Linked DNA regions of Homo sapiens. The protein of the gene in region 1 purifies or fractionates together with the protein of each later gene. This does not show direct contact. Each region holds a gene or a part of one and is shown on either strand. Other genes may lie near its edges.

Region 1 (5,104 bases):
GATGCAGTACAGCTCTCCCGCCTCCAAATCTGAGCTTCTTGGCTCTTAAAGGTACCTTGATCTGCGAGGAATGTTCTTGCCTCTGGGAAGTACTGACAAGTACTCAGGTCACCTAATACACTTCATTAACTGATGACCAACAAGGAAGAACAGGATGGCTGGCAAGTGATGGGGTTGGAGAGGTAGGGGAGGGCAGGAATGAGAATGAGATACCAAGGCCAGAAGGGGAAGAGCAGGAAGGCCTTCAGAGGCATGCATTCCTGAACTGTTCTTGGGCAAAGCCCTGAGAAGACTAAATTGGGCTCAGTTGGGTAGAATGTAGAGGTAGGTGATCTCCAAGTGCTGGAGATGAGTATTTTTTAGAAGCAGTGTTTAATTTTTTTTCTGATCATAAAGGTATAACCTGCTAATGAGAGGAAATTTAGCAAATGCAGAAGAGTATAAAAATTATTTTTACAGTGGGTGGAGGGCAAGGGGAGGGAGAGCATTAGTATAAATACCTAATACATGTGAGGCTTAAAACCTAGGCTGGGCGTGGTGGCTCACGCCTGTAATCCTGGCACTTTGGGAGGCTGAGGTGGGTGGATCATGAGGTCAGGAGTTCAAGACCAGCCTGACTAACATGGAGAAATCCCATCTCTACTGAAAATAAAAAAATCAGCAGGGCGTGGTGGTACGCATCTGTAATCACAGCTACTCAGGAGGCTGAGGCAGGAGAATCACTTGAACCAGGGAGGCGGAGGCTGTAGTGAGCCCAGATCTCACTACTGCACTCCAGCCTGGCGACAGATGGCACATGTATAATACCTATGTAACAAACCTGCACATTCTGCACGTGTAGCCCAGAGCTTAAAATTTAAAAAAATATTTTTTTAATCTTAATCCCTTAAAGAAAATAAAAACTGGCAACTTTTGTAATGAATTTTTCCAGTTTACTTACATATGCAGACAGACACACACACACACACACACACACAATCAAAATTAGGATCACATAATATTGTGTCCTTCTCTACCTCTGCTAAATCTTATATTATGAACATCCTTGGGCACATATCTTGGTAAACCTTTGCACATATATCCAGCAGGTAAAATTCCTAGCAGTGGAATTGCTGGGATCAGGGTAAGTATATTACAAATGTTTTTTTAAAATAGATAAAGCTAAATTGCCCTCCTCAAAGGCTGTCAATTTACATTCCAATTAATAGCACTTACAAGTCCCATTTCTCCAAATGCTTCCGAATAATGGGGGCCCAACATTTTACCTTTCACCAACCTGATAAGTGGAAACAGTAATTTTCGTATTTGGATTTTTGTCCCTTGAATCCGAAGGTTTGTCATTTCTATTTTCTTGAAAACTGCCTCTTAATTTCCTTTGCCCTTCCCCTGCTTTTTTTCTATTGGCTTGGACATCTTTTTCATACTGAACTTGAAGATTTGAAGAGCACACTATAAATCAAGAAACTAGTCCTTTGTTGGTATTTCCTCTTTTGTCTTTTGTTTTTTAACTGAGACACTGACACAGAATTAATTACATTCAGCATTTATAAAAAATCAAGTCTCTAAATCTTTTTCTTTATAGTTTCTTCTTTTGGTTTTATACTTAGGAATTTCTGAGAGCTGATACATATTTGCCTAAAATTTCGGCTAATTTATTTGTTTCATATTTCACACTAACCCTTTATCTGTAATTAATTTTGATAACATAGGAGATGTAAAGGGGACTAAGTTGCTATTTTTTTAACTGTGTGAACTTACATCTATTGACTAATATTCCCTTTCTCTCTTAATTTGAGATGCTACTTTTCCTTATGTACCATTGTATGCACAGGGTGTGTTTCTAGGCTACATATTCTTGCTCATTGTTCCTTCTATTTAGTTGCATACCAGTAGCACCCTATTTTGGTTTCTACAGTTTTACAGTGTTTTAATACTTGATATAATATTTTAATATCTTTTTTTTAAAAAAGGACTTGCCTAAGTCCTATGACATTTTAAAAAATATATTCTTTGAAGTTAAAAAAGTACCTGAAATCTTGATTGTAACTGCAGTAAACCTATAAACTAGATAGAACTATTATCTCTGTAATATTCGAGGACCCTCATTCAGAAACATGGACTTTCAAATTTTATATTTAAAATTTTTATAGTTTTTTAATAAAGTGTTCTTTCATATTTCTTATAGAGGTTATTCTTAGCTATATCATTGCCTTGTTATTTCTGTGAATAGGTCCTTTTTCACACTGTATTTTTTAATCGATTGATGTATTTCATACATTTATTCTGTAGCCAGCTTGTTTTCTGATCTCTGTATTATTTTGATAGTTTTTCACATGATTCTATTGGGTATTCAAGGAAGACAGTTATGCAGCAATCCCACTACTGGGTAACTACCCAGAGGAAAAGAAGTCATTATTCAAAAAAGATACCTGCACATGCATGTTTACAGCAGTACAATTTACAATTGCAAAATCGTGGAACCAACCTAAGTGTCCATCAATCAATGAGTGGATAAAGAAATTGTGATATATACATACGATGGAATGCTACGCAGCCATAAAAAAGAATGAATTAACAGCATTTGCAGTGACCCGGATGAGACTGGAGATTATTCTTACAAGTGAAGTAACTCAGGAATGGAAAACCAAACATCGTATATTCCTACTGATATGTGGGAGCTAAGCTATGAGGACGCAAAGGCATAAGAATTATACAATGGACTTTGGGGACTTGGAGGGAAGAATGGGAGGGGAGTGAGGATAAAATACTACAAATATGGTGCAGTGTATACTGCTCAGGTGATGGGTGCATCAAAATCTCACAAATCACCACTAAAGAACTTACTCATGTAACCAAATACCACCTGTATCCCAATAACTTATGGAAAAATAGAATAAAAAAGGAAGACAATTAATCTCAAATAATACAGAGTTTGTCTTCTTTCCAATATGCATTTTATTTTCATTTCATTTCTTATTGTCTTGCACCTGTATAACAAAAGTAGTTGCAAGAGTCTGTATAGTTGTCATGACACTGTGACAGTCCTGGCTTTAATGGGAATGCCACTAACATTTCACTATTATGTACTGACATTGCTAGTTAATTTTAAAAGTTCATCTTTGGCTCATGTTGTAAGAAAGTATCTTTGATTCCTAACCTACTAATTTCTAAAAATCAAATGATTTTCAGTATCTGCTGAAAGTTGTATTTTTCAGTATCAAGCTCTCCACTTTGAGCTAAAATTTAACAAAGTGGAATTACTAATGAGAAAGGGATAGGAAAGAATGTCTTGGCAGGTAAAAAGTAGTCTGCCATTTTTGGAAACAGTGCTCATATATACATTTAGTTGTGGCATGAACTTAACTGTGCTTGCTGTGGGAACCAGGTCAGTGGAGAGAGAAAGAACAAACCACCATGATTATTTCTTTCCTCTGGCCACTTAAGGAATCCCTCCTGGCTTGCCTATTTCACTTAACTCCTGAACCAGATGAGTTGCTGACAGGAGTACATGGTGGAGAGGAAGAAGAGGCGGGAGGGGCATTGTGTTAAACTCTGCAAGGCAATTCCCATGGTGGAAAAGGCAAGGACATTTCAGAGCTGGGGGTAGAGCAGTGGCGAGAGGCGCAGAGGCATCTACTGTGAACGACCTATTGGGCTTCACTCCTGATGAATCCAGGGCCACTATTATTAGCATCTTTTTACAACTATTAATATTGTTCTTTACTATCTATCACTTACCCTCCTGGGTAGCTTTGTGTACCGAACATAATCCTCCAGGAACAGAAGGGCACCCACAACATCTGCAGGAATTTCAGGTATCTTCTGGCTGTGATAGAGAACAGTTTAGATCAATTAACTGCTTTGCACATCATAAGCCCTTTTGGTCAGAATCCTGAAAGACTAAATTACCAACAGATTACCTAATGAAGTCAAAGATGAACAAAAACATTGAGCATGCTCTTAATTCCTGTCAAGTTGTTACCTTGCTCATGTATTTTCAGGAGCCCACCCCATAGGGTAAATGTGAGCTTCTCTATACGGTTTCCATGGGCGTTTACAACACGATCCCTGCTATCTATCCAGACTCATCTCCCTCTGTTTACATGATTCAATACCTAGCAGGTCCCATACTTTCCCATCCCTGCACACTTTTTTTTTTTTTTTTTTGCGACAGACTTTTCACTCTTGTAGCCAGGCTGGAGTGCAGTGGTATGATCTCGGCTCACTGCAACCTCCGCCTCCCGGGTTCAAGTGATTCTCCAGCCTCAGCCTCCCGACTGGCTGGGATTACAGATGCACGCCAGCATGCCTGGCTAATTTTTTGTATTTTTAGTAGAGACGGGGTTTCACCATGTTGGCCAGGCTGGTCTTGAACTCCTGACCTCAGGTGATCCACCCGCCCTGGCCTCCCAAAGTGTTGGGATTACAGGCGTGAGCCACCGCACCTGGCCTGCACACTGATTTGAAAGTAAACTTCTAGACATTGTTCGAGTCTCAGCTTGGGTACTTCTCCTGTGGAATCCTCCCTGATTCTCCTGGGCTGTCATAATAGTTAGCAGCATTCTCCAAGCCTCTTAATTTTTCAATGGTGTGCTGGGTTCCCATCAGGAGTATAAACTCCTCGAGGGCCTAGGTCATATGTTCATCTTTGTTTCTCCAGCATCTGGAAATGTGCTTGGCATGTACTGCATATTTGACGGTATCAAATAAATACAGCATCTAGCAATTTTTCATATGGGATTTTACTCATGTATTCATTCATTCAGCAACTACAGTGCCAAGCACTGTTCCAGAGCTGGGAATACAGCAAAGTACATGCCAGGCTCCTTATAGAGCTAACGTTCCTTCTTGTTTACATCAAAAGGAGTTTTTAGGTGTTAAAACGATTTCCAATTCCTGTACCAATTGGCATTTTCTGATTAACAAATAACTTTTAGTACTATTAATACATTACTGGTTAATTTCGCTGATGAACTTTGCTTTTTGAATGGGTTAAGAATGACTGTACCTGGAAAAATTCTCCCTGCTCTCAATCTTTCAATCTGTGACCAGGGCTATATTTGCTCTGCTTGGAGCAAGAGAAAGGAAGGAATTCCCATGCGTC
Region 2 (4,357 bases), on another chromosome or scaffold:
AAAGCAAATAACTAAAGAAAAATTCCAGAACTGACAGACACAAATCTTTACATTGAAATTGCTCACTAGGTACCGAATAAATTAATAGAGTCATACCGTAGTACATCATTATGAAATTATAAAATATCAAGAATGAAAAAATCACCACAAAGGAATGAGAAACCAAAGGAAGGTTATGGCTTATAACCCCTTAAGCAAAGAAGCAATACATTCGGAAGGATTCAGAACTCTGAAGGAAACAATTTTTAACCTAGAATTCTGTACCTCGTGAAACTCTCAATCAATGAAGTTTGAGGGTAAGGATGTATTCAGATAAGTAAGGACGATGAATATTTATATCCCATGTACCTTTTTAAGGAAACTACTCGATGAGCTCTAGTACAGATGAGATAACCAAGGAAGAAGAAGATGTGAGATTCAGTTAACAGTGGACCTAGCTCAAAAGAAAGCAGTGAGGAGGATTCCCCGGATGACAGCTGTTAGAGCAGACCCAGAGAGATACCACCCAGATGCTACTGCAGAAAATAGCTCTCTAGGGTGCAGAGATAGGATGAATAAGGGGAAATTGGATACAACGCTTAATTTAATGAAATAAAATAATGTAAAAGAGATACAAAGGAAGATGTAACATGCAGAAAAGTAGTTGGAAACTCTTGGAAAAATAAAATGCTGTATAAGAAAGGAAGTTTATCAAATGTACTACTTATTTCTGCAGGGAACCACATTTACATATGTTATAAATACTATATTGTAAAAATGAAAGATAACTATATATAGAAAGGATGGTAGAGGGGAGATATGGGTGTTGATAAGTAAGAATCCCCATTGCTCATAGAGGATAAACTTTATAAATAAGTCAGCAGGCCAGGGACGTTGGCTCATGCCTATAATCCCAGTGCTTTGGGAGGCTGAGATGAGCAGATCACTTGGGGTCAAGAGTTCGAGATCAGCCTGTCTAAAATGATGAAACTTCATCTCTACTAAAAATACAAAAATTAGCTGGGCATGGTGGCATGTGCCTGTAGTCCCAGCTGCTTGGGAGGCCGAGGCAGGAGAATTGCTTGAATCCAGGAAGAGGAGGTTGCAGTGAACTGAGATCACACCACTGTACTCCAGCCTGGGTGACAGAGTGAGATTCCGTCACACACACAAAAAAATAAATAAAACAAATAGTATATTATGAATAGTAAGAGATGACTATAACTATCAGATGTTAACACTTTGGAGGTGGAAAAACAGATTTTTATCCTCTTTTTGGTTTTTCATTATGAGTCTAGATTTGTTTTTAATGATGTATATGTATTGTTTTGATAATTTAAAAAATGTGGCCATGCAGACACACATTGTAAAGGTGAAATGGTTTCACAATCTTAGTTATGTCAGTTATGTTTTACATTTAATGAATTTAGCTAAAGAACATGCATGGATTTCTCAGTAGAGAGCTATAGTTAAGGTTGTAAGTTCTGGAGTTAAATGACTTAGATTTAACTACCTTGGGGGGTAGATTAACCTCTAAACCCCAGTCCCTTTTTTTTTGCTTTGTTTTGTTGTGTTGCTTTTTGTTTGTTTGTTTTTCTTATTTATTTAAGACCCTAGTCTCTTGAACTATAAAGTGGGGCTGATAACATGTATCTCGTAGCATTGTTCTGAGGATTGAATGAGATGGTCTGTTCAAAGTGTATCAAAAGTAACCAGCATGTAGTAAGTTCTCAGGAAATGTTATCTTAAAATAACAATAAAATGATTTACCAGAATGAACACACTGAAGCAGTAAGTTCCATAATTAATTTTACATAAGTTATCAGTAACTAAAATTAATTATATCTATTCTTTAAAACATCATGGAAATCATTGATTACAAAATTATTGGATATTCATTATTACATTGAAAAATGAAGCTGGCCAGGTGTGGTGGCTCATGCCTTTAATCTCAGCACTTTGGAAGGCTGAGGTAGGCAGGTTGCTAGAGCTCAGGAGTTCAAGACCAGCCTTGGCAACATGACGAGACCCTGTCTCTACAAAAAATACAAAAATTCACTGGATGTGGCACACCTGTAGTCCCAGCTACTTGGGTGGCTGAGGTGGGAGGATCATTTGAGCCCAGGAGGTTGAGGCTGCAGTGAGCCATGATAGTGCCTGGGGAACAGAGTAAGACCCTGTCTCAGAAAAAAATAGAGAGAGAGAGAGAAATAAAGAAAGAGAAAGGAAAGAGAAAGGAAGGGAGGCAGGGAGGGAAAGAAAATAAAACAAAACAAAACAAAGGAAAGAAAAATGAGAGGCCAGGTGCAGTAGCTTGCTCCTGTGATCCCAGCTACTCAGGAATCTGAGGTGGGAGGATCTCTTGAGCCTAGGAGTTTGAGGCTGAAGTGCACTGTGATTGTGCCACTGCACTCCAGCTTGGATGAGAGAGTGAGACCGTCTCTGATGAAAAGAAAAATGAAGGCTATAGTTTCATAAGAGTATAAACTTGGGGCCAGGCGTGGTGGCTCACGCCTGTAATCCCAGCACTTTGGGAGGCCGAGGAGGGCGGGTCACGAGGTCAGGAGATCAAGACCATCCTGGCTAACACAGTGAAACCCCGTGTCTACTAAAAATACAAAAAATTAGCCGGGCGTGGTGGTGGGCGCCTGTAGTCCCAGCTGCTCAGGAGGCTGAGGCAGGAGAATGGCGTGAACCCAGGAGGCAGAGCTTGCTGTGAGCCGACATCACGCCACTTACACTTTTAGCTTGGATGACAAAGTGAGACTCAAAAAAAAAAAAAGAAGAATATTAACTTGGAGGTAGCACAATCTGGGATTATATCCTGACTCCACTATTTTCTCAGATATATTATGATAAAAATATTATACTTATATAAACTTGGAGAAGCTTTTTTCTTTTTTATTTCAGCTTTATTAAGGTACAGTTTACATAAAAGTGATGACTTTTATGTTTAAAATGTGATGGGTTTTGACAAAAGTATACAGTGTTACAACCATCACCGTGATCGTAATAGAACATTTCCATCATTGGAAGAGCCTCTTAGCCTCTTTGAAACCCAGTTTCTTTGCATGTTACATAGAGATAAAAGCCAGCAACCTCGGGTGGCTGTATACACAGGACCTAATATATACAGTCCCTGGCACATAGAAGACATTGCTAGTGTTCTTATCATACTCATCATTTTTTTTTCTGTTATTTTCTAGCTTCTGAAAGTTCTGCTGAAGACAGTGAGCAGGAAGATGAGAGAGGTGCTCAAGACATGGATAATAATGGCAAAGAGGAATCTAAGATTGATCATTTGACCAACAACAGAAATGATCTTATTTCAAAGGAGGAACAGAACAGTTCATCTTTGCTAGAAGAAAACAAAGTTCATGCAGATTTGGTAATATCCAAACCAGTGTCAAAATCTCCAGAAAGATTAAGGAAAGATATAGAAGTATTATCCGAAGATACTGATTATGAAGAAGATGAAGTCACAAAAAAGAGAAAGGATGTCAAGAAGGACACAACAGATAAATCTTCAAAACCACAAATAAAACGTGGTAAAAGAAGGTATTGCAATACAGAAGAGTGTCTAAAAACTGGATCACCTGGCAAAAAGGAAGAGAAGGCCAAGAACAAAGAATCACTTTGCATGGAAAACAGTAGCAACAGCTCTTCAGATGAAGATGAAGAAGAAACAAAAGCAAAGATGACACCAACTAAGAAATACAATGGTTTGGAGGAAAAAAGAAAATCTCTACGGACAACTGGTTTCTATTCAGGATTTTCAGAAGTGGCAGAAAAAAGGATTAAACTTTTAAATAACTCTGATGAAAGACTTCAAAACAGCAGGGCCAAAGATCGAAAAGATGTCTGGTCAAGTATTCAGGGACAGTGGCCTAAAAAAACGCTGAAAGAGCTTTTTTCAGACTCTGATACTGAGGCTGCAGCTTCCCCACCGCATCCTGCCCCAGAGGAGGGGGTGGCAGAGGAGTCACTGCAGACTGTGGCTGAAGAGGAGAGTTGTTCACCCAGTGTAGAACTAGAAAAACCACCTCCAGTCAATGTCGATAGTAAACCCATTGAAGAAAAAACAGTAGAGGTCAATGACAGAAAAGCAGAATTTCCAAGTAGTGGCAGTAATTCAGTGCTAAATACCCCTCCTACTACACCTGAATCGCCTTCATCAGTCACTGTAACAGAAGGCAGCCGGCAGCAGTCTTCTGTAACAGTATCAGAACCACTGGCTCCAAACCAAGAAGAGGTTCGAAGTATCAAGAGTGAAACTGATAGCACAATTGAGGTGGATAGTGTTGCTGGGGAGCTCCAAGACCTCCAGTCTGAAGGGAATAGCTCGCCAGCAGGTTTTGATGCCAGTGTGAGCTCAAGC

The links. The genes of interacting proteins can lie anywhere in the genome.
Region 2: the proteins of WASHC5 (region 1) and ARID4B fractionate together in Homo sapiens (co-fractionation; one large-scale study listed by BioGRID). This does not show direct contact.

What each region holds. Positions count from the first base shown.
Region 1 is NC_000008.11:125,024,882-125,029,985, forward strand, and holds part of WASHC5 (WASH complex subunit 5), read right to left. Parts: intron 3,827-5,104; coding exon 3,739-3,826; intron 1-3,738. UniProt on the Homo sapiens protein: Acts as a component of the WASH core complex that functions as a nucleation-promoting factor (NPF) at the surface of endosomes, where it recruits and activates the Arp2/3 complex to induce actin polymerization, playing a key role in the fission of tubules that serve as transport intermediates during endosome sorting.
Region 2 is NC_000001.11:235,181,622-235,185,978, reverse strand, and holds part of ARID4B (AT-rich interactive domain-containing protein 4B), read left to right. Parts: intron 1-3,185; coding exon 3,186-4,357. UniProt on the Homo sapiens protein: Acts as a transcriptional repressor. May function in the assembly and/or enzymatic activity of the Sin3A corepressor complex or in mediating interactions between the complex and other regulatory complexes.